7 linked regions of the Homo sapiens genome follow. The protein of the gene in region 5 interacts with the protein of the main gene of each other region in a pairwise test. Each region holds a gene or a part of one and is shown on either strand. Other genes may lie near its edges. The genes, in order: RIMBP3, IKZF3, XIAP, CEP76, NEK6, DLST and KATNBL1.

Region 1 (4,033 bases), on a different chromosome or scaffold from region 5:
CTGGCAGGGACTGTCTCTGAAACTTGGGGGACACTGGCTGACTCCCCAAGGGCAACTGGGCTCTCCTCGAGGGAGGCTTCCCTTTTCTCCTGTATGTCTCTGTTGGGCTGTGACACTGCGTAGTCTTCAGGCCGTGCGTGGAACTTGGGCCTTCTGCTACCTTTAACTTGGGACTCCGGCATTTGACTGGTCTCCCAGGGCTGTTCAGGAGGGTGACCAGGCCGACACTGGAGCGCCTGTATCTCCTTCCAGGAAGGATGGAGGTCACACAGGGCCTTCTGCGGGTCGCGTTGCAGCTGCTGCTGCCTGTCCTGCCCGCGCGCCGCCTGCTGCAGCAGCTGTTCGGCGATCAAGCCGGAGGCATCGCGCTCTTGACACGCGCGGCCCAGGTGGCCGCGCACTTCGCTATTCTCAGCCTCCACCTTCCGCACCCAGTCGGTCTTGGCCTGCAGCCGCCCATTCTCCTCCGCCAGCCAGGCGTTTTTGAGCAGCGCCGCCTGCAGCTGTGTCTCGGCCTCCTCGCCACGTCGCCGCGCCGGGGCCGCCTGCGCGCCCAGCTCCTGGCACTCGCGCCGCCGCTGGTCCAGCTCGCGCTCCAGCGCCAGCATCTGCCGTCGCACCTCCTCGCAGGTTGCGCTCTGGCCGCCCGCCTCGGGCCAAGCGCCACCGTTGCCCTGCTGAAGCATCAACTGCCTCTGCAGGCGCAGCACTTCCCGCTGGGACTCGCGCTGCAGGCGGTCTAAGTCTCTGACGTTGAGCCACTGGGTGCAGGGGCCGCCCCTTCCAGTATGCAGGTCGCTGCAGGGACCCGAGGCGACACGCGCCTGCAGGAGGTGGCACTCCTGCCGCAGCTCTTCGATCTGCTTGTCCTTGGCCAGCGGCGCGCTCGCCTGCTCCGACAGGTCCCGAGCGCGCTGGCGGGCAAAGACTTGGCACAGCTCCAGGCCGGCGCAACTCTCGCCGGGTATAGGCGCGCTCACGGCCCGGAGGTTGGTCTCCTGCAGCTTGCGGGCGCGGTCAGCTAGGCGCCGCGCGAGCCCGGTCAGCTCCGCGCGCTTTACCTTGAGCCGCTTCACCTTCTCGTCTGCCTGGTAGGGGCAGCCTGCACGCCGCAGCTGCTTGTTCTCCGCTTGCAGGGTATAACAGCGGCGCGCCAGCACCCACAACGCCTTGGCCAGCAGCCAGTTCAGCTTTATCAGCTCGTGGTGGCCCAGGCCCGGGGGTGAGGGAGTCAGGACTTCGCAGGGCTGGCTCTCAGAGCCTTCTCCTCCCCGCGGGTTGCTGAGTTTCCTGTGGGCTGACGGTGGTGGTGGCGGCGGGAGTGGCGATGGTGGCGGCGAGAGCCTCCGGGAGCCAGGGGTGGAGGTGTCTGGTGAGGAGGGCCGCTCCTCGGATTTGGAGGCCTTGGGGAGGCTCCGGGTGCTGTCAAGCGAGCGGGAACACGCAGGTGCGAAGCAATCAAGGGAGCTGGCGTGCGTGGAGAGCAGGCCGTCTGGGGAGCTGGAGCACGCAGAGGACACCAGGCCTAGCGAGCGGGAGCGCACACCGACTTCAGCACTCAGGCTGTCTAGAGATCCGAGTTGGCAGGCGGGTTTGGGGGCGTGGCAAGAGCCGCTGGAGGTCTGGGGCAGCGGTTCTTCCAAGGAATGCACAGCTTGGGGGTCCGGTGATCCCGACAAAGCCGGGTGCCCGCGGAAGTGCGCCAGGATGTACTTGAGGAAGAGCTGGCGCTCCACCTCCAGCGCCGCCTGCAGATAGCGGATGCGCGCCGCCTGCTCGCCGTCAGTCTGCCAGCGAAGCTGCGCCAACACTTCCTGCAGGCGACAGCGGCACTGCGCCGCGGAAACCTCGGACGCCCCCGGGCGGCTACAGTGGCCGCGGTTCACCAGCTCCTCGGCCAGCTGGCGCTGCAGCTCCCGGGCTTGGCGCACCACGCCATCGCGCTCCCGGTGCAGCAGCTGCTGCAGCTGCCGCTGCTCGGCCTCCTTCCAGCGCAGCAGCTGCCGGATCTCGGCCTCGCGTTCCCGCTGCATCTCCTCTTGCAGCTGCCGCAACTCCCGGCTGCGCTGTGCCTCCCACTTGGAGCGCAGACGGTCAGCCAGCTGTCGCCGCTCCCGCTCGGCCTCCTCACGCAGCTGGCGCTCCCGGGCAGCGAAGCGCCGCCGTTCCGCCCGCCAGCCTGCCCGCTCCGCCTCCAGCTCCGCCCGTAGCTTCTCCAGCTCCCGCCTCTGGTTCTCCAGCACTGCCGCCGCCGGGCTGGAGCAGCCCGGCTTCTTGGGCGACGCGCCCAAGGGGCTGGGCGAGTCCTTGGCCATTGCGGCCGCGGCCCGGCTGGTCTCCAGACTTCGCCTGGCAGGCCTCAGCTCGCCAACGGCCGCCGCCGACCGCCCGGCGCGCCCCTTCCGGCGCCCCCTGGGGGTCTCCGCGTGCCCCTTCCGCCTCTTGGCATGTTCCCCCGCCTCCTGCCGCGGATGTCTGGCCCAGGCGCCTCTCCACCTGGCAAGGCCAGGGCTGGACTCCCACACCCCTGCTCAAACTGGCCCATGTCCCTTCCAGGATGCACGGGGGCTTTTCCGGTCCCTACACTTTTCCTGCTTCTAGCACCAAGTCCCTTGTGACCCTCCCCAGGCACCCTCCCAGGCACTGTGCAGTCCCAAGCAGGCCGCGGTGCCCCGAGGGAAGTCTGGGCTGCTGCTCCTGTACTTGGAGAAAGGGGCAGGGTGTGTGTGTTAAGGCCACCCATGGGGTGTGGGCATACCTGGTCGTGGGTTCAGGTGGTGTATTTGGGTCAGGTGGCTGGAAAATGCAGCAGGATAGGCCTCAACTTGGCTAGACCTGGACTCCCCAGGACCCTTCAGCCCCCTAACAGCCCTGATCACCCAACTGGTCATCCACCTTTTGAGGAAAGGATGTGCCTGATACACATTTGTGTTACTGCGCAGAGTCGGCTCAGAGGAGGTGTAAGCGAAAAGACCCTCCCCAGCAAGGTGGCATAGGGACCCAGGGCCAGATAGGCATGAGGGGCACTGCCCAAACTGGCCATCTGGCCTGTCTACCTCCCACATCCAGGTACCACCTGGTGACAAACACTGGAGCCCCAGTGTCTGGGCTACTCATTGGCATCTTAGGTAGAGGCCTCAGGATGGGCCAGGAGTGAGGGTGAGGCTTCAGCAGAAATGTTGGAGGCATCCTGAGCTGCAGAAGAAACACACACACACACACACACACACACACACACACACACACAGCTGCAGAAGAAACATACACACACACACATACTGAGCTGAAGGAATACACACATACACTGAGCTGCAGAAGAAACATACATACACACACTGAACTGAAGAAATACACACACACACACACACACACACACACACTGCCTCTCTGACTGGTGGCCACCTGTGTGGCTTGGGAGCTAAGAAGCCCTGCTTCAGTCTGGCTCCTCTTTGCCCTTCCTGTCTGCTCCTGGTGCCAAGTGGCTTTTGGGAGACATGGATGGACACCTGATACCTGGCAGTCTGCATCGAGACATTGATTTTTTTTTTTTTGAGATGGGGCCCCACTCTGTCGCCAGGCTGGAGTGCAGTGGCGCAATCTTGGCTCATTGCAACCTCTACCTTCCACGTTCAAGAGATTCTCCTGCCTCAGCCTCCCAAGTAGCTGGGATTACAGGCTTGAGCCACCATGCCCAGCTAATTTTTTGTACTTTTTAGTAGAGACAGGGTTTCAGTATGTTGGCCAGGATGGTCTTGAACTTCTGACCTCAAGTGATCCACCCGCCTCGGCCTCTTAAAGTGCTGCGATTACAGGCATGAGCCACTGTGCCCGACAAGACCTTGATATTGAAGTCACATCAGAGGCCCCTTTGCTTCTTGGTCTGTCGTGTCTCCCTGTCCCCAGGAAGCACCTGGGACCTCTCACAACTGCTGTGTTCACTCAGCTTATGGCCCTCCTTTACAACACTCAAGTTTTTCAAATCAGTTTCCCCGGAACCCACAGAACATGCCTTTAGGCAGTGTCAAGTAACAAG
Region 2 (3,047 bases), on a different chromosome or scaffold from region 5:
CCTGCGTCAGCCTCCCGAGTAGCTGGGATTACAGGTGTGCACCACCACACCCAGCTAATTTTTGTATTTTTTTTTTCGAGATGGAGTCTCACTCTGTCACCCAGGCTGGAGTGCAATGGCACGATCTCGGCTCACCACAACCTCCTCCTCCTGGGTTCAAGCGATTCTCCTGCCTCAGCCTCCTAAGTAGCTGGGATTACAGGCATGTGCCACCACGCCTGGCTAATTTTGTATTTTTAGTAGAGACAGGGTTTCTCCATGTTGGTCAGGCTGGTCTCGAACTCCCAAACTCAGGTGATCCGCCCGCCTTGGCCTCCCAAAGTGCTGGGATTACAGGCGTGAGCCACCGCACCTGACCCTCCTTAAAACATTCTAAACCTCACATTCAGTAGGGCTTGGGGAGGTGGGGGTGGTACAGGAAATAGGAGAATAATAGTGATACAGATGCTACCTGGAAAAACTTTGTTCTGTCTGTTCCTCACGAAACAAAGCCGAAAAGAAAAACTTTATGTGGATGTGAGATTTGATAGTAACACAGTGTTTCACCTGAGCAAAATTTTGTGTTTTTAAACATTTCTGTTTGCCAAAGAAATCTGAGGTTGTGGCTGGGCGCAGTGGCTCTTGCCTGTAGTTCCAGCACTTTGGGAGGCTGAGGTGGGCAGATTGCTTGAGCCCAGGATTTTGAGACTAGCCTGGGCAGTATGGCGAAACGCCATCTCTGCAGAAAAATACAAAAAAAATTAGCTGTGCATGGTGGTGTGCCTATAGTCCCAGCTACTTGGGAGGCTGAGGTAGGAGGATTGTTTGAGCCTAGGAGATCAAAATCTGAGGTCATTTTATATCTGGCCGATTTTGAGTATGGGCCTAACAAAATGTTAAGCACTGCATTTAAAAGGTGAGAAATTTTGTCACTGACAAAGTCAGAAGCTGTGTCAGGAACAGCTCACAGTGGGTCATAAAGCATAAGATTAGCTGGCTTATCTGTGCCAAGGCGAATGTCTTTTTGGGAGAATAACTTGAGGAAACTAAAGACTGATGAGTTCATTTTCTCTCTTTTTTTTTTCTGGTGGTAGTGGTGGGGGCTCACGGGAGAGACACTTCTATTTAGTTTTCTTTCCGTAGGAAGTACCGATGCAACACTTCAGGTAGTGACAGAAAACATTTGGAGAGCTGGGCATTGTTTGTGCATGCCTGTAATCCCAGCTACTTGGGAGGCTGAGGCAGGATTGCTTGAGCACAGGAGTTTGAGTCTGGCCTAGGCAACATAGTGAGACCCTGGTCCTCTAAAATATACATACATATATATACATATACAAAAAAAATAAAAATAAATTAAAAAATTAAAAAACACCTGGAGCACTGGTTCTGTTTCTTTTCCACCCTCAGCCCAGTTCTGTCACCTTGGCTGCAAGGAAACTTTGCCTGGGTTTTTTTGTTTGTTTGTTTGTTTTTGTTTTAGACAGAGTTTCGCTCTTGTTGCCGAGGCTGGAGTGCAGTGGTGCCATCTCGGCTCACCGCAACCTCCGCCTCCCGGGTTCAAGCGATTCTCCTGCCTCAGCCTCCTGAGTAGCTGGGATTACAGGCATGTGCCATCACGCCCGGCTAATTTTGTATTTTTAGTAGAGATGGGGGTTTCTCCATGTTGGTCAGGCAGGTCTCGAACTCCCAACCTCAGGTGATCTGCCTGCCCCAGCCTCCCAAAGTGCTGGCATTACAGGCGTGAGCTATCGCGCCCGGCCCTTTGCATGGGTTTGGTTGTTCCTCAGACCGTGGCCTCCTGGGTGTATGGTGGAAAGCCCGCCTGATAAGAGGCTGGTGGGAAATGAAGGAGAGGGGCCTACAAGGCTCTTGTTCAGAGGGAGTCTGCATGAGAAAGTACAGGTACTATCTGAAGCTGCTCCAGGGCTTCAGTGCCCAGCAGTGGCAGATGCAAGTCCTGACTCTGCCCTTCTGCTAAGATTCTCCTTCACCCTCACCTCCCCAGCCCTGGCAAGGGGTTTGTTAATTAGTACAGCATAAGGGGTATGTACAGAAGGCAGCGTTTATCTGTGTGATGGTAACCACTGCATATCTGGTTCAACTTCAAGACTTAAGGATGCAGAGTTTCCACACATAAATTTTTTCTGGAATTGATGGGCCCCAATCTAGGCTCAGAATGCCACAAAGAAAGTGCCTTTGTGAGTGGTCACCTTACTCAGAAAACTAACCTCAGAAGAATAGAAATCATGCAGCAAATTCATTAGTCACAGGAAAAAGGAGGATCATATCTATAAAAAGAGTCCCCAGGCTGGTGGAATGGGCCTTGGTTTCACAATCTTGAGATGCAAAAGGTGGTCTCAGGCTGGGTGCGGTAGCTCATGCCTGTAATCCCAGCACTGTGGGAGGCCAAGGCGGGCAGATCACCTGAGGTCAGGAGTTTGAGACTGGCCTGGCCAACATGGTGAAACCTTGTCTCTACTAAAAATACAAAAATTAGCCGGGCTTGGTGGTGAGCACCTGTAATCCCAGCTACTTGGGAGGCTGAGGCAGGAGAATTGCTTGAACCCGGGAGGCGGAGGTTGCCGTGAGCCGAGATCGCGCCACTGCACTCCAGCCTGGGCAACAGAGCGAGAGACTGTCTCAAAACAAAAGAAAACAAAAAAAGTTGGTCTCCTCTGCAAAGACTTGAACACTAATCTGGTGGAAAGGCTTCCTTTCCCTCGTTTTCTCTTCTACTAATCCCTGCTTCCAAATTCTCTTTCTCTTGTCCCTTGAAGAACCAACAGGATGTGCGATATTTCAAGAACGTAATGAGCAACTCCTCTTTCACAAAGGGAATAAGCAATCTGGCATAGCTTGGAGTCTAGTATTACGGAAATACAGTGATATACTGAAGACTACACACCAAAATACATCCATTCCTTTAGCTGAAGTCTCAAACATGTTGGGACTGTTGCCATGGAATTTCATAAAACCTTTTTTCCTGAGACAGACGCCATGCCACAAAGAAGGATAAGCCATTTGTGCAGTCTGAGGTGGAACATTTTAATTACTGGCAGCACATAGAC
Region 3 (3,500 bases), on a different chromosome or scaffold from region 5:
GGGCGGCAGAGGTTGCAGTGAGCTGAGATTGCGCCACTGCACTCCAGCCTGAGCGACAGAGCGAGACTCCGTCTCAATTAAAAAAAAAAATCAATCCTCTTTGGTTTAATGTAAGGTCAAAATTTAAGCATGGGCTTGTGTGATTCTATAGCTCATCTTCTCTTCTTTCACGATGTTACCTTTGATAATAACTAACATATGTAATGTGCTTTACAATTTAGAATGTTTTCATATATGGAATCTAATTTAACCTACATAATATATCATAGGCCTCATCTGAAATATGAGGAAACAGTAGTTCTGACTGTTACTCATCAAAGGTCATGCACCCAGTGATTATGACCAATATAGGTCTAAGGAAATTACTACAAGGATTACTGGCAGAAGGGACAGTCCAATGAGGTAGCAGAAAATGTTAGGCTTCCTTCCCTTTCAAGGCCTAAAAAATTAGCTAGAACCATAGAAAGGTTAAGTCACATGGTAATATATGCTGAGATGTCTGTGTTTTTTTTTTCTTTTCTTTATTTTTGAGATGGAGTCTCACTCTGTCATCCAGGCTGGAGTACAGTGGCATGATCTCAGCTCACTGCAACCTCCACCTCCCAGGCTCAAGTAATTTTCCTGCCTCAGCCTCCTAAGTAGCTGGGATTGCAGAGGCATGACCCAGCTTTTTTTTTTTTTTTTTTTTTTGTATTTTTTTAGTAGAGATGGGGTTTTGCTCTGTTGGTCAGGCTGGTCTTGAACTCCTGACCTCAAGTGATCCACCTGCCTCGGCCACCCAAAGTGCTGGGATTTCAGGTGTGAGCCACTGCGCCCAGCCAGATGTCTGTATTTCTGTATTTAAGGTGAATAAGATGATTACAGAAATAAGAATAAAATTTCAAACCATAATATTTTATAAGTACCAGGGAATGCACAATGGCAGCAGCCTTGTCCGGTTTAAGAAATCAGCTTTAATCCACTTGGTTCAACATCTGACCATCTGAGATCAAGCTATTCTCAGTCTGTACAGGTAAACGTGACTTTTCACTATGACCCATATCCTCGAAAATACATAAAACTATATCATAACAAGGTGAATCACATGTATCCATAACAAAGACTGGGTACCAAATCATACCAAAATCAAATCCCAAAATGTATCAAACAGCAGAGCTACAAATGTATCACAATTTAAAACAATAAAAGCCCATGCCAAGTCCTGCAAAATGGACATAAGTATGTTTTTATCATATAAAGGATAACCTATTATTAACCACATACAGAGCAGATAAAATATATAATCCATAAATTTGGCCTCAAATTCCTGTTTTTGTTTTTTGAGATAGGGTCTTGCTCTGTCCCCCAAGCTGGAATGGGGTGCCCTGATCTTGACTCACTGCAACCTCCACCTCCTGGGCTCAAGTGATCCTCCCACCTCAGCCTCCAGAGTAGCTGGGATTACAGGTGCACGCACAACCATGCCCAGTTAATTTTTCTATTTTTAGTAGAGATAGCATTTTACCATGTTGCCCAGGCTGGTCTTGAACTCCTGGACTCAAGGGATCTCCCTGACTTGGCCTCCCAAAGTGCTGGGATTAAAGGCATGAGCCACCATGCCTGGCCTGGGATTGTTATGTGGAATTTTTTTCCTTGACAAAATCTCAGATAATCAGGCTTAAAAACTATTATAATGGGTTTTGAATCGTTGGAATCAACTAGTCCTTAAGCCCAGCCACCCTGGGTTTTTTGTTTGTTTGTTTGCTTGTTTGTTTGTTTTGAGACAGGGCCTCACTCTTGTCACTCAGGCTAGAATGCAGTGGTGCCCTCATGGCTCACTGCCACCTTGACCTCCCGGGCTCAAGCGATCTTCACAGGCGCGTGCCATCACATCCAGCTAATTTTTTTATTATTGGTAGAGACGGGGTCTCACGATGTTGCCCAGGCTGGTCTCAAACAATCCTCCCACCTCAGCCTCCCAAAGTGCTGGGCTTACAGGTATGAGTCACCATGCCTGACCCTGTTACTTTACAGATGAAGAAAGTGCAGTATAAAATAATACACTGGATAAATAAAAAATGTATTTTGAAAGACTTCAGGCTGGGCGCAGTGGCTCATGCCTGTAATCCCAGGACTTTGGGAGGCCAAGGCAGGTGGATGACCTGAGGTCAGGAGTTCGAGACCAGCCTGGCCAACATGGTAAAACACTATCTCTACTAAAAATAGAAAAATTAACTGGGCATGGTTGTGCGTGCGCCTGTAATCCCAGCTACTTGGGAGGCTGAGGCAGGAGAATCACTTAAACCCAGGAGGCAGAGGTTGCAGTGAGCTGAGATTGCACCAATGCGCTCCAGCCTGGGCAACATGAGCAAAACTCCGTCTCAAAAAAAAAAAAAAAAAAAGGCCAGGTACGGGGGCTCACACCTGTAATCCCAATACTTTGGGAGGCCAAGGCGGGCGGATCACAAGGTCAGGAGTTCAAGACTAGCCTGGCCAACATGGGGAAACCATGCCTCCACTAAAAATACAAAAATTAGCCGGGCGTGGTAGCACATGTCTATAATCCTAGCTACTCAGGAGGCTCAGGCAGGAGAATCACTTGAACCCAGGAGGCGGAGATGCAGTGAGCTGAGATTGTGCCACTGCACTCCAGCCTGGGGGACAGAGTGAGACTCTGTCTAAAAAACCAAACCAAACCAAAAAAAAAAAAAAGACTGCTGGGCGCAGTGGCTCACACTTGTAATCCCAGCACTTTGGGAGGCTGAGGCGGGCTAATCACGAGGTCAGGAGATGGAGACCATGGTGAAACCCCGTCTCTACTAAAAATACAAAAACATTAGCCAGGCGTGGTGGCGGGCACCTGTAGTCCCAGCTACTTAGAGAGGCTGAGGTAGGAGAATGGCATGAACCCAGGAGGCGGAGGTTGCAGTGAGCTGAGATCGCACCACTGCACTCCAGCCTGGGCGACAGAGCGAGACTCCGTCTCAAAAAAAAAAACAGAAATGTTAACTATAGAATGTTGAAGGGGGGGGGGGGATTAAAACAACCTGTAGACAATATGATCGTCATTATTCTATTTCATAAATTTTCTATAATAAACACATATCTCTGGCCAGGCACGGTGGTTCATGCCTGGAATCCCAGCACATTGGGAGGCCGAGGCGGGCAGATCACATGAGGTCAGGAGCAAGACTCCGTCTCAGAAAAATAAATAAATACATAAAATAAAATAAGCCAGGTGTGGTAGCACACCTGTAGTCCCAGCTACTTGGGAGGCTGAGGCAGAAGAATCGCTTGAACCTGGGAGGCGGAGGTTCAGTGAGCCAAGATCTCACCACTGCACTCCAGCCTGGGTGACAGAGCTAGACTCTGTCTGAAAAATATATATATTATATATGTAATATATTTTACATATTATATTGTGTTATATATTATATATATTTTACATATATTGTATTATATATTATATATAATATATTATACATGTAATATATTATATACTATATTATATATATCATACA
Region 4 (3,500 bases), on a different chromosome or scaffold from region 5:
GCATGATCTCAGCTCAATGCTGCCTTGACGTCCTCAGCTCACTGCAGCCTTGATGTCCCCAGCTCAAGTGATTCCCCCGCCTCAGCCTCCTGAATAGCTGGGACCACAGGCACTCATCACCAGGCCCAGCTATTTTTTGTGTTTTTGTAGAGACAAGGTTTCACCAAGTTGCCCTGGCTGGTCTCGAATTCCTGGACTCAAGCAATCCGCTTGCCTCAGCCTCCCAAAGTGCTGGGACTACAGGCATGAGCCACCTTACCTGGCCAAGAAATTTCTTTCTCCAAAAAATTGGATTTGGTGGTGCTAAAGTTTTTTAAAAAAAATTAACTGTAAGAAAACAAATAGCATTTTATAGTTCTTCAAGTGGCTTTACAAAAATGTAATAACCAATCTTTTATTTTTTAATTTACTTTTTTCTTTTTTGAGACAGAGTCTCGCTCTGTCACCCAGGCTGGAATGCAGTGGCATGACCTCGGCTCACTACAACCTCCTCCTCCCGGGTTCCAATGATTCTCAGCCTCCTGAGTAGCTAGGACTACAGGCGTGCACCACCACACCCAGCTAATTTTTGTATTTTTAGTAGAGAGAGAGTTTCATCATGTTGGCCAGGTTGGTCTTGAACTCCTGACCTCAAGTGATCCACCCACCTCGGCCTCCCAAAGTGCTGCGATTACAGGCATGAGCCACTGCGCCTGGCTTAATCAACCTTTTAGACCCAATTATTTCTGAGATTTTGTCCTAAAGAAAATTCAGAAGTAAAATAAAAATATCTGCAAAGATAGTCAGTGTGAAAGTTCATTCATGGCAACATTAAAAAATTTAAAATGAGCTTAACTTTATGGCCAGGTGTGCCAGCTTTTGCCTGTAATCTCAGCACTTTGGGAGGCTGAAGCGGGCAGATCACTTGAGGCCAGGAGTTTGAGACCACCCTGGCCAAGAAACCCCATCTCTACTAAAAATACCAAAAAAAAAAAAAAAAAAGCCAGGCATGGTGGCTCCATGCCTGTAGTCCCAGCTACTCAGGAGGCTGAGGTAGGAGAATTGCTTGAGGCTGGGAGGCGGAGGTTGCAGTGAGTCGAGATCGTGACACTGCACTCCAGCCTGGGCGACAGAGCGAGACCCCGTCCTAAACAAAAACAAAAGAAAACAACAACAACAAAACCACTGAATAAAAAAAAAAGAGCCTAACTTGGCAGTTCCTACAATAGGGAAATAGTTAAATGTATTTTGTATATTGACTCAAGGAAACTTAAAACACTCATTAAAAAACGGAAATCAGCACTTTAGGAGGCAGAGGCGGGCAGATCACCTAACGTCAGGAGTTCGAGACCAGCCTAGCCAACACAGTGAAACCCCATCTCTACTAAAAATACAAAAATGAGCTGGGGGTGGTGGCGGGCACCTGTAATCCCAGCTACTAGGGAGGCTGAGGCAGGAGAATCGCTTGAACCCAGGAGACGGAGGTTGCAGTGGGCCGAGATCATGCCATTGCACTCCAGCCTGGGCGACAAGAGGAAAACTCTGTCTCATTTAAAAAAAAAAGGAAATCAGAAAGACTGTAGCAACACATAGAAAAATGTTCATAGCATAATGCTTAATTATAAAGCAAGATACAAAAATTTATTTACAATTATAATTATGAAATAAATGATACATATACAGCAGAAAAAATATAAAAAGAAATAATAAACTAGGAATAGAATTATAGGTAAAGTTTCACCATTACTGTTGTAATGCTGTTGTTTGTACAGTAAAAAATCTAAATATATATATGATATATATCATATATATGATATCATATATATATGTATTTTTTTTTGAGACAGAGTCTTGCTCTGTCGTCCAGTTTGGAGTGCAGTGGCGCGATCTCAGCTCACTGCAACCTCCACCTCATGGGTTCAAGTGATTCTCCTTTTTTTGTGTTTTTAGTAGAGATGGGGTTTCACCGTATCAGCAAGGATGATCTCGATCTCCTGACCGTGTGATCCGCCCGCCTCAGCCTCCCAAAGTGCTGGGATTGCAGGCGTGAGCCACCACACCTGGCCCATGCCTGGGTAATTTTTATAGTTTTTTAGAGAGAGGGATTTTGCCATGTTGCCCAGGTTTGTCTGGAACTTCTGGGCTCAAGTGATTTGCCCACCTTGGCCTACCCAAGTGCTGGAATTGCGGGCATGAGCCACCATGCCTGGCCTGCTGTCACCTTTATTTATTTTTTTTGAGACAGAGTCTCGCTCTGTCACCCAGGCTAAAGATAGTTTTTTGTTTTTTTTTTTTGAGATGGAGTTTTGCTCTTATTGCCCACACTGGAGTGCGATGGCGTGATCTCGGCTCACTGCAACCTCCACCTCCCAGGTTCAAGTGATTCTCCTGCCTCAGCCTCCCAAGTAGCTGGGATTACAGGAGCCCGCCACCATGGCTGGCTAATTTTTGTATTTTTTCAGTAGAGATGGAGTTTCTCCATGTTAGCCAGGCTGTTCTAGAACTCCCGACCACAGGTGATCCACCCTCCCCGGCCTCCCAAAGTGCTGGGATTACAGGCGTGAGCCACCGCGCCTGGCCTAAAGATAGTTTTACTTGTTTGTTATCATACTATCAACATTTTTAGAACACAGATTAGGAAATATCCCATAATCTATAAAATTAGTTTACTAAAATCAAGTCATTCAAAAAGTGTAATTAAATATACATTTGTATTTAAATACAAACTAAACAAACTAAATAGCATGCAATTCAAGATTTTTTTCTATTTTAATATTTTTTCTATATTAATTTTGTACTGCCATTTTCTCTTTTTTTTTTATGGAGTTTCGCTCGTTGCCCAGGCTGGAGTGCAATGGCGCGATCTCAGCTCACCACAACCTCCGCCTCCCAGGTTCAAGCAATTCTCCTGCCTCAGCCTCCTCAGTAGCTAAGATTACAGGCACGTGCCACCACACCACGCTAATTTTGTACTTTTAGTGGAGACGGAGTTTCTCCACGTTGGTCAGACTGGTCTTGAACTCCTGACCTCAGGTGATCCACCCACCTCTGCCTCCCAAAGTGCTGGGATTACAGGCATGAGCCACCACGCCCAGCCTTATTTTCTCTTTTTTAAAGATGTATTATCTGAGCAAATTGCAACACATCAGTAGTACCAGAAAGCCATGGTCTGGTCCTGGTGCTGTTCCTAATTCATTCTGCAACTTGATTTCTGACATTTTAGTACTTGTAGGTCCCTACATCACAGAAATCACAATAAATAAGAAACTACATGAGAAAATAAAGATGCTGAGTTTTTTGTGTATTGATATTTAAATGTTATGAAAAACAGAACAAGGTTCTGACGTGGTCAAGCTGATAGCACCCCAAAGCGGTTAGTTCCAGGACCCTTGCAAAACAAAATCCGTGGATACTCAAGGCTTATATAAAATAGTATTTTTTTTTTTTTTGAGACGTGTCTTGCTCTGTCCTCAGGCTAGAGTGCAATGGTGCGATCTCAGCTCACTGCAACCTCCGCCTCC
Region 5 (3,500 bases):
TTGCAGTGAGCTGATCACGCCACTGCACTACAGCCTGGGTGATAGACTGAGACTCTATCTCAAAAAAAAAACAAGATCAAGAGAGAAACTGGTCCTTTTTTGGACAGAGAGGACCCTGCTACTCCTCCAGCGCCCTGAAGCTGCGGGTGTTCTCTCCCCATTTCCCCAACGCCATTCTCTCTCCCGGCCCTCCTCTGCCCAGGCTCTCAATCTTGTTCTTTAAGGACAAGTAAGCAAATCAAGGGGCTTGGGAAGCTTTGCTGGAGGATTTAAAGCCATTTCCTCCGGCAAAGCTGTGTTCAGACGGGCCCAGCGGCTCTCATGGACATGGCTCCTGTCCTGACTTTGCCGCTTGACCTACTTCCTCCATTTAGGAGGGACGCAGAAGGCAGGAAGCCCAGAACTGTGGAGCAACCGCAGGCGCAAGGATGGGTGGACATGGTATGAACCTCAGCTCCCCCAAGACTCATGCTGGGGCCCTGGCGGTTATGAGATTTTCCTCATCTGAGAGATGAAATGACAATCCCCACCCACGGGACTGTTGAGAGGCTCCATGTGCTCCTTGCATGACCCAGTACACAGCAGGCGCTCAATGCATGCTCGTTTTTCTTTTCCTTTGCAGTTCACAGTGAACTTTCATCAATAGGAGTCCACCTGGTTCTCTCTGTAACCCAGTGAGTTGAGTGCTGTTTCCCTCGTTCACAGAAGAGGGGAGAGAAGGGACTGGCCCGGGCACCCCGTCCAGATGCAGAGACCACCTCCCGAGATGCAGGTTTGACCCCACGGGTTGTCAGCTCACCTGCACCTTCTTCAGAGCCACTGTCTTCCTGTCCAGCAGGCAGGTGGCCTTGTACACCTCGCTGAACTGTCCTCGGCCTATCTTCTTTTCGATCTGGAAGTCCGCCAGCGAGCAGCGAAAAGACAGCGTGTTGGGATGCCTCTGGAACGGGGGACAGAGGGCCTCCGTGAGCAGCCAGGCTGCAGCAGAGGCCTGGGGACGACCCCTAGAGGCCCAGCACCCCAACAGCACCCTCTAAGGTGAAGGAGGGACTCTGCTGCCAACCCTGCTCTGGGAGCCTCCCAGGCACCCCCCCAGGGGGCTTTCTGCACAGGGTCCCCTGGGTCCCCTCAAGGACCCCCAGTGCAGGTGAAAAACTGAGGCTGTTCATGCTCCCCACTGCCCTCATCACCACCTTCATTGTCTGACTGCTTGTTTGTTTGCTGTCTCTGAGTCCCATCCCTGGGGGCTAGCTCCGTGGGACCACGGGCGTTGCCCGTCTCATCCTCTCCTGAATCCTTGATGCCCAAACTGGGGTCCGGTAAGCCGGGTGCAGCTCATGTATCCCCAGCCCGTGGCCACCATGCAAAATGCCCCAGGTCATCATAAGAAATGGCAAGTTCCCTTCCTGGGGCAGCCGTTCCCCATCTCAGACAAGAAAACCAAGGTTAATATTCATAGCCTTGGCCAGGTGTGGTGGCTCACGCCTGTAATCCCAGCATTTTGGGAGCTGAGGCGGGAGTTCGAGAGGTCAGGAGTTCGAGACCAGCCTGGCCAACATGGCGAAACCCTGTCTCCACTAAAAATATAAAAATTAGCTGGGTGTGGTGGCCCATGCCTATAATTCCAGCTACTCAGGAGGCTGAGGCATGAGAATCGCTTGAACCCAGGAGGCAGAGGTTGCAGTGAGCAGAGATCATGCCACTGCACTCCAGCCTGGGTGATGGAGACTCTGTCCCCCTCTCAAAAAAATGTGCAGCCTTACACCCTGAGCCCATCCTTTAGATAAACTGCCTTTTTTAGGGTGTCGTGAAGAAACCAGAGCTCCACAAAGACTCTGCAGGGGCCAGCATTGGAACACATGATCCTGCGCTAGGACCTGCCCAGGGATGGAGCCTCCAGGTGAGACCACAGTGGCCAGGAGGACCCCAGGACACCTGTGCAGTGAGCTCTCAGGAAAAGGCAGGAGGGGGCGCCAACAGTGGGCCAGGGAAGGAGGAGACAGACAAGGGGAGAGGATGCCACATCTCTGGCCTGCCCTATGGTGAGATGGGCCCGGCTGTGTCTCCATTTGCCTGATGAGGAAACTGAGGCCCAGAGGGGCCAGCCATGCCCACATCACCCAGCTCCATGCCACCGCCCCTAGTGAAGCCAGAACAAGCAGTTCAACTTTCTAGCATGAAGTGGGTCTTTGGTGAGGGTCACACTGAGCCGGGCACCGTACCGAGGCGTCTTTAGGAGCCAGCACCCTGGCGGAAGGCATCAAGACCAAACCGAGAACTACAGGACTGGCCCTTCTGACAGCTGCTTCCCCACCTGGAAACACCAGGAACTGCTGGCCGGACCAGCTGCGTCTCAGCCTGAGATGCCTGCGGAGCAGGGGCACGTCTCCTGGGCAGGTCTAAGCTGGGTCCATCAACTTCTCCTCTGTCCTTCTCCCAGAGTGCCTGAGGGGAACCTGGTTATGTGGTGATCCCTACTCTGGGACCCTGAATCATGACTTAATGAATAATAGAAACTCACTGGAAAAGCAGGGAAAAAAGTAAAGTGAAAATGTCTCTTCTAGGCCAGGCGCAGTGGCTCACGCCTGTAATCCCAGCACTGTGGGAGGCCGAGGCGGGCGATCACTTAAGGTCAGGAGTTTGAGACCAGCCTGGCCAAAAAATTTTTGTAAAAACACAAAAATTAGCCGGGTGTGGTGGTGGGTGCCTGTAAATCCCAGCCATTTGGGAGGCCGAGGCAGGAGAATTGCTTGAACCTGGGAGGCGGAGGTTGCAGTTGGCCTAGATCGTGCTACTGCACTCCAGCCTGGGTGACGGTGAGACTCCATCTCAAAAAAAAGAAAATGTCTCTTCCAGATTTGGCTGAGGGAACTCTACAGAACACCCTCCTGCGGGAGTGAGTGATGGGAGTCCAGGCCTCACAGCACACAGCAAGGTGAGGGCTGGGCCAACCTTGACTTTGAAGCCTCGAGGCCTAATTACCTCTCATGGTGGGTCCTGCCAGAGGACCCGATCTGGAGGGCTGCTGGAGGAGGAAGATGATGATTTTATCCACCATGTGCCAATGTCTGTCGGGTAAATACACCTGTACACAGAGCACCCACCTAAGAAGAGCAGGCATCCTGAGTGTCTACTGCATGCTGGGCTCTGTGCAGACACCGCCCACGCGCCCACTCTTTGGGTCCTCAGAACAACCCTGTGAGTGGGCCTCACTGCTGTCCCCATTTCAGGAATCTGAGGCTTGGAGGGGTAGCAGTGACCTGTTCTGATCAGGCAGCAAAGAACAGCAGAGCTGGGGTGTGACCCCAGGACTGGGGACTGTGGTGCCCAAGCTCTTGCTCCGTATCGGGTGGGCTCTCAGCTCAGATCCCTCCTCGGCTTTTCACTCAAGACCCCCTGACCGGCCAGGCCTGCCACTTCCTGCTCCAGCCTCCATTCTTTCAGTCACCTGAGCCCTGCCCCAGGCCCCGCCCCAGGACCCGCCACCGGCCTCTTCAAAA
Region 6 (2,664 bases), on a different chromosome or scaffold from region 5:
TGTCATCTGTTTCCCAGGGGCAAGGGACCACGTTTCCAACTATATCCCCCACTCCATAGAAGCAAACAAGCCTCCTCAGCTCAGTGGTTCTCAAACTTGAATATGCATCAGGATCATCTGCACTTCTTCTTTAAGTCTGGGATGGGGTCTAAGAATATGCATTTCTAATAAGGTCCCAGATGATGCTGATCCAGACCACAATTTGATAATCAGTGCCTTAGCTATTAGAAACTAAGAAATGGAACTTAGGCCTGAAATTATAGTTAATGTTTTACAATTAGCATTTAGTTGGATTTCCCTTTCATCGAGACCTAGCCACTAGGACCTTAGAAGTGACGGTTCCTACCTTGCCTCCTATAGCCACTGGCCTGTCAAAGATGCCATGCATCCCCAGGATGGCAGACTGAGGGGGGTTGATAATGGGTGTTCCAAAGAGCGAGCCAAAAACGCCTCCATTGCTAATGGTGAAGGTACCGCCATCCATATCTTCAATGGCAAGTTCATTCTTTCGGGCCTAAAAACAGATTTCATAATTGAAATATCAAGCCAACCCAGTTTCCTTCACCTAAAGTCAGTCCATAATCCCAGCGCTTTGGGAGGCCGAGGCAGGAGGACTGCTTGAGGCCAGGAGTTCAAGGCCAACCTGGGCAACATAGTGAGACCCCCATCTGTATAAAAAACTTAAGAATTAGCCAGGCATGGTGGTGCACACCTGTAGTCCCAGCTACTTGGGAGGCTGAGGCAGGAGAATCGCTTGAGCCCAGGAGTGCAAGGCTGCAGTAAGCTATGACTCTACCACTCTACTCCAGCCTGGGCAACACAGCGAGACCCTGCCTCTAAAAACAAAAAAGCAAAGGAAGTCCAGAAAGCTTGTATCGAGATCGATGGCACAAGCGCTAGCTTCCGTGTGACAGTTGTTCGGCTAAGGTGTCTATGACCAGTGCTCCACCAGAGAAAAGGCACAATTTCATACAGTTGAAGACTTCAAAGATGATCTTTTCTAGCAGGTCTCATCTGATGAGATTTCAGTTACCAGAGCATGGTAAACTCCACCAGATATATAAAATACTTAGCTCTCATGGGCAACTGCTTTTCTCAGGGGCTATGCACTTGACTTTCCATGAGCACTGCTTGCTAGTGAGCCCAGCCTTCTGAAGGCTCTCTTCCCTCGCCTGCTTAGCAGCTTGTATACATCTTTCTACTTTACCTTCTCTCCCAGTTCAGTGATGGTCCGTTCAATATCTGCAAAATTCATAGCTTCCACATTCCTGATGACTGGAACCACCAGACCCTGAAGGGGGTGAAAAGCTGTTTTCAGTTGCAAATTAATAGTACCTTTTATAGTTAACAACTCCCTTGATTCAACCCATGGTATGCCCTCCCTAGAATACCTTCATTACTCAGTGTGATTAACAGAAAGTGTTAAAAGAATGCGGCATGGTTTAAAAGAAAAAAAAGGTTACTTTTACTAACTCCCTTCTAAAAATACAGAATTAAAGAAATGATTTCTCTTGTGTGATCTCCTTCACACAGATAAGGTGAGGGTCTAAGACCAACATTCCCCACCTCCTGCCCCAACATACCCGTGGGGTGGCCACTGCAACACTGATGTCAATATAATCCCTATACACCACCTCTTTGGTTGTGTCGTCAATCACTATGAGAGAGAAAATACATGTTACATACAACTCCCCAGGAAGGCCAAGACTAATGAGGTAATATGTGCATTAACAGAGTAAAAATCTGCAGAGCTTGATACAGTGTGGGCTGACCAACCACCATGAACACCACTGCATTATGCATGGCAGCTGGCATTCCACTTACTCCCATCCCAAGTATAGTATCTCCCAAGTCCCTGACTGAGCCTGGGCATAGGAGCATCCATTTCTTTGGCAGCCCTAAGAAGGGCTCAACACACTGGCTTCCATAGGATAGGTATGCACTAAACTCTCGTTAAGTAGCTCTAGTCAAGCCCTCCTTTAGCAGAGAATGACTAGGGTTAACAAATGTTCCAAAAAAGGGCAAATTAGCAAAGGAAAAGGGATATAGAGATACTACCCATTCTCTGCTTCCAACTCTCAACAAGAGGAAGAGGGGAGATCCAAGAGTAAGCGGGGTGATCTGGCTTTGAAATATGCTACCTCAAGAGATGGCAAACCAGCATCTGAAAATGTACACCTAGCAACTAATGGGAAAATAAAGGCTTGGGAATCATTTCCGCAGAAAGTCCATGTTGTATTGTTAGATAAGACATCCAGAGGAAGCATGTAATGTGAAAAAGAGGCCACGAGAACTTTTGAGAGCCGCCTACATGTGTGGGCAAGCAGAAGGGGGCCACTGAAAAAGATGAGAGCCAGTCAGGGAGGCATGAGAAGAATGGGAAAAAGAAGAGGTATACATTTGGGCAAAACAAAGATGGCCTTCTACCTCCCTAGAGCACCACTCAACAGGAGGGACTAGGGCTTCTACTTCTAGACCTTTAGGGCCCCTGACACTGCTGAGGATGGCAAAAGTAGCACTGACCCCTCTCCAATCTCCCAAGGAACAGAGAAGTGTGTCAACAGGAAAACAAAGTGCTTGTTAGGTCAACACTACAATGACGTAGGTAAGTAAAAAGGAAAGAAAATAAGCACCAGGTCCATGAGAGGCCAAGCCGAAGCTCCC
Region 7 (3,500 bases), on a different chromosome or scaffold from region 5:
GCATAAGCTAATTTCCAGATGGTGATAAATGTGGTGGGGGAAAAATACAGGGTACTGCTATAGAGAATGATTGTAAGTGAGGGTGGGGTTATTCTTGATTGGGTGGTGAGTGTGTGGGAGGAATATTTTAAGCAGAAAGAATGGCTCAGCCACAAAATGGAAATAAGTTTGAAATGTTGAAGGACAGAAGGCCAGTGTGGCTGAAGCATTTAGGAAGCTATTATATAGTCTAAAGGAGTTGGTGGTTTGGTCTAGAATGGTGGTAATGGAAATGGAAAGAAACGGACAGCTTGGGAATATATTATAAAGGCAAAGTCAACAAATTGGATGTAGGTTATTAAGGAAAAAAGAAATCAAGGATGAATCCTTTATTTCAGGCTTGAGAAATTGGAAGGAGGATGGTTCCGTTTACTGAGTTAGGGACTGTTGGGAGGAGCAGATTTGAGAGGGGGGATATTAAGGGTTCTATTTTTAATATGTTAAGTTCAAGAATAGATGACTATTGGATATCCATGTGGAGCTGGCTAGTAGGCAGTTGGAGATTTGAATCCAGAGTTTAGGTGAAACAGTATGATGAGAGATTTTATTTATTTATTTTTATTTTTTTTGAGACAGAGTCTTGCTGTCGCCCAGGCTGGAGTGCAATGGCGTGATCTTGGCTTACTGCAACCTCCGCCTTCCGGGCTCAAGCAATTCTTCTGCCTCAGCCTCCCCAGTGGCTGGGATTACAGGTGCCTGCCACCATGCCCAGCTAATTTTTGTATTTTTAGTAGAGATGGGTTTTCACCGTATTAGCCAGGCTGGTCTCGAACTCCGGACCTCAGGCAATCCGCCCACCTAGGCCTCCCAAAGTGCTGAGATTACAGGCGTGAACCACCGCGCCTGGCCGAGATTTTATTCTTAAATGAAAGTTAATATGTTAATTTTTGTTATAGTTAAGTCTTGGACACAGGAGTCATATTTTCTTGAGCCTGCAAGTGATTCTTCTGTTGGAGAAGAAAGTGTTCCCTGAGAGAGGAGGCATTTTCAAACCTTAATATACGTTCTGATTTCAGCCTAGGAGATATGGTGGTGCCCAACCACTGTAACTGTTGGGGATGTAATATAATCCTCACAAGTTTTGGAACATAAAGGTTTAAGAACCGTTGTTATAAAAAGATTTTGAATGTCTCTAGTATCATTTTTGTTAATTCTTAAAGGATGATCTACCCTTTTTTCCAAGGCTTAGGGTATACTTAACCCTGTTGACTTCTGGTACTGTAGAAATTAGGCACAAGTGTCGTAGGGTGGTGACATTAGTCCAAATAATGAAGATAGAGTTTTTTAATTAATTTATATTAGCTCATCATTTTGAGAGTTGAATACTACTTTATTGGTATATCCTCTCATATGTAGAGAGTCTATTGGTTTTGAAAGTATCAGAAATACCTTTAGTAGGCAAACAAGGGTCAAAAATGATCCTTAAAGTGACAATGTTTTATGTATGTATACATTCATCCCTCATTATCTATGGGCGATTGGTTCCAGGACCTCCCAATGATATCACAATCCGAGGATGCTCAAATCCCTGATATAAAGTGGTGTAGTATTTCCACATAACCTTTGCACATCCTCCCATACACCTTAAATAATTTCTAAATTATTTGTAATATCTAGTACAATGTAAATGCTATGTAAATAGTTGTTATACTGTATTATTGGGGGAATAGTGATGAGAAAAATAAGTCTACATATTCAGTAGAGATGTATTTTTTTTCTAAATAGTTTTGATTGGGAATTGATTGAATCCACAGATGCTGAACCCACGGATACAGAGGGCCAGTTGTATATATATTTTCCATTTCTGAGTCCAAGAAGACAATTAAAACAGAATCAAGTATTTTTTCCTCCCTGTTGAATATTTCCAGAAAATACTGGGTTATTCTAACAGGGAAAGTAAATTGGAATTTGGCGAATTCACCAAAACATGCTAGAATAATCATAACCATCTACTTCTAGGCGTAAGAAGTCCTAAGTCTTCCCAAAGATTCAGGTGTTTTATAGCCATTTAAGAAAATATGTATATAATACTCTAATACATTATAATTAAGTTAAAACATACTTGCACATTATACAAAATTCAAAAGGCCCAAAAGGGAAAAGTCTTCTCCCTTCACCCCCTAGCCACACATATCCTCTCACTAGAAGTGACTTTTGTCCCCAGTTTCTCTCATATCCTTCAAAAGATATTTAGTGAATATACAAGTAGTCCCTCACAGACACACACTTTTTAACCTAAGTGGTAACATAGTGTTTTGCTACCTTACTTTTTTCTCCCTACTTTCCAGTATAAGGCATAGTTATGTTTTTTAAAAAGCCTGTGTAGGTCCACAACTATGGATGGTGATAAACATCTACCTAGTTCTTTAATTTTATTTTCCCATTATTAGTCCCAGTTCCCTAATGTAGTAATCTAAGTGGACTTGATTAAAACTGAGGAAGAGGCCGGGTGTGGTGGCTCAAGCCTGTAATCCCAGCACTTTGGGAGGCCGAGGAGGGCAGATCACGAGGTCAGGAGATCGAGACCATTCTGGCCAACATGGTGAAACCCTGTCTTTACTAAAATACAAAAAATTAGCCAGGTGTGGTGGTGTGCACCTGTAATCCCAGCTACTTGGGAGGCTGAGGCAGGGGAATCGCTTGAACCTGGGAGGCAGAGGTTGCAGTGAGCTGAGATGGCGCCACTGCACTCCAGCCTGGCGACAGAGCAAGACGCTGTCTCAAAAAACAAAACAAAACAAAACAAAAACACTGAGGAAGAGGTAGTAGGAAAGCTAATTCCCACTTGGCATCTCTTTTGTAATTTTTATTTCAGGGTATCTCAGTCATAAGAGAGTTGGAATTCAGTTTGATCCAAATTGATTGAAATGATATAGTATTGTACCCACTGAATCTCCAGACATCTGTCTTTATTTTCATGCTTGATCTGCTTTCCCGAGTTTGACGTTATTTCTCAAATCAGCTTACTGTGGAAAACTGAATTAAGAGAAAGTGGTGGGCGGGGCGTGGTGGCTCACGCCTGTAATCCCAGCATTTTGGGAGGCTGAGGCAGGTGGATCAAGAGGTCAGGCGTTCGAGACCAGCCTGGCCAATATGGTGAAACCCCATCTCTACTAAAAATACAAAAAAAAAAAACAATTAGCTGGGCGTGGTGGCACGCACCTGTAATCCCAGCTACTCAGGAGGCTGAGGCACGAGAATCTCTTGAATGCGGGAGGCGAAGGTTGCAGTGAGCCGAGATGGCGCCACTGCACTCCAGCCTGGGAGACAGAGGAAGACTCCATCTCAAAAAAAAAAGAAGAGAGAGAGAGAAAGTGGTGTGATGAATCATCATTCAGGAAATATTAAACCCTTGAGATATCAACTTTGAGTTGTTCCGAGTAGGTGAGAGGTGAAGCCAGCTGGGTTTCTGGGTTGGGTGGGGACTTGGAGAACTTTTCTGTCTAGCCAGAGGATTGTAA

The links.
Region 1: the proteins of NEK6 (region 5) and RIMBP3 interact in binary tests that used the Homo sapiens proteins (3 or more experiments, as listed by UniProt).
Region 2: the proteins of NEK6 (region 5) and IKZF3 interact in binary tests that used the Homo sapiens proteins (3 or more experiments, as listed by UniProt).
Region 3: the proteins of NEK6 (region 5) and XIAP interact in binary tests that used the Homo sapiens proteins (3 or more experiments, as listed by UniProt).
Region 4: the proteins of NEK6 (region 5) and CEP76 interact in binary tests that used the Homo sapiens proteins (3 or more experiments, as listed by UniProt).
Region 6: the proteins of NEK6 (region 5) and DLST interact in binary tests that used the Homo sapiens proteins (3 or more experiments, as listed by UniProt).
Region 7: the proteins of NEK6 (region 5) and KATNBL1 interact in binary tests that used the Homo sapiens proteins (3 or more experiments, as listed by UniProt).

The regions. Positions count from the first base shown.
Region 1 is NC_000022.11:18,609,120-18,613,152, forward strand, and holds the start of RIMBP3 (RIMS-binding protein 3A), read right to left. Parts: upstream 2,801-4,033; 5' UTR 2,316-2,800; coding exon 1-2,315. UniProt on the Homo sapiens protein: Probable component of the manchette, a microtubule-based structure which plays a key role in sperm head morphogenesis during late stages of sperm development.
Region 2 is NC_000017.11:39,760,266-39,763,312, forward strand, and holds part of IKZF3 (zinc finger protein Aiolos), read right to left. Parts: 3' UTR 1-3,047. UniProt on the Homo sapiens protein: Transcription factor that plays an important role in the regulation of lymphocyte differentiation. Plays an essential role in regulation of B-cell differentiation, proliferation and maturation to an effector state.
Region 3 is NC_000023.11:123,866,553-123,870,052, reverse strand, and holds part of XIAP (E3 ubiquitin-protein ligase XIAP), read right to left. Parts: intron 1-3,500.
Region 4 is NC_000018.10:12,682,224-12,685,723, forward strand, and holds part of CEP76 (centrosomal protein of 76 kDa), read right to left. Parts: intron 1-3,500. UniProt on the Homo sapiens protein: Centrosomal protein involved in regulation of centriole duplication. Required to limit centriole duplication to once per cell cycle by preventing centriole reduplication.
Region 5 is NC_000009.12:124,309,949-124,313,448, reverse strand, and holds part of NEK6 (serine/threonine-protein kinase Nek6), read right to left. Parts: intron 941-3,500; coding exon 800-940; intron 1-799. UniProt on the Homo sapiens protein: Protein kinase which plays an important role in mitotic cell cycle progression. Required for chromosome segregation at metaphase-anaphase transition, robust mitotic spindle formation and cytokinesis.
Region 6 is NC_000014.9:74,898,916-74,901,579, reverse strand, and holds part of DLST (dihydrolipoyllysine-residue succinyltransferase component of 2-oxoglutarate dehydrogenase complex, mitochondrial isoform 1 precursor), read right to left. Parts: intron 1,658-2,664; coding exon 1,584-1,657; intron 1,292-1,583; coding exon 1,208-1,291; intron 515-1,207; coding exon 347-514; intron 1-346. UniProt on the Homo sapiens protein: Dihydrolipoamide succinyltransferase (E2) component of the 2-oxoglutarate dehydrogenase complex. The 2-oxoglutarate dehydrogenase complex catalyzes the overall conversion of 2-oxoglutarate to succinyl-CoA and CO(2).
Region 7 is NC_000015.10:34,200,097-34,203,596, reverse strand, and holds part of KATNBL1 (KATNB1-like protein 1), read left to right. Parts: intron 1-3,500.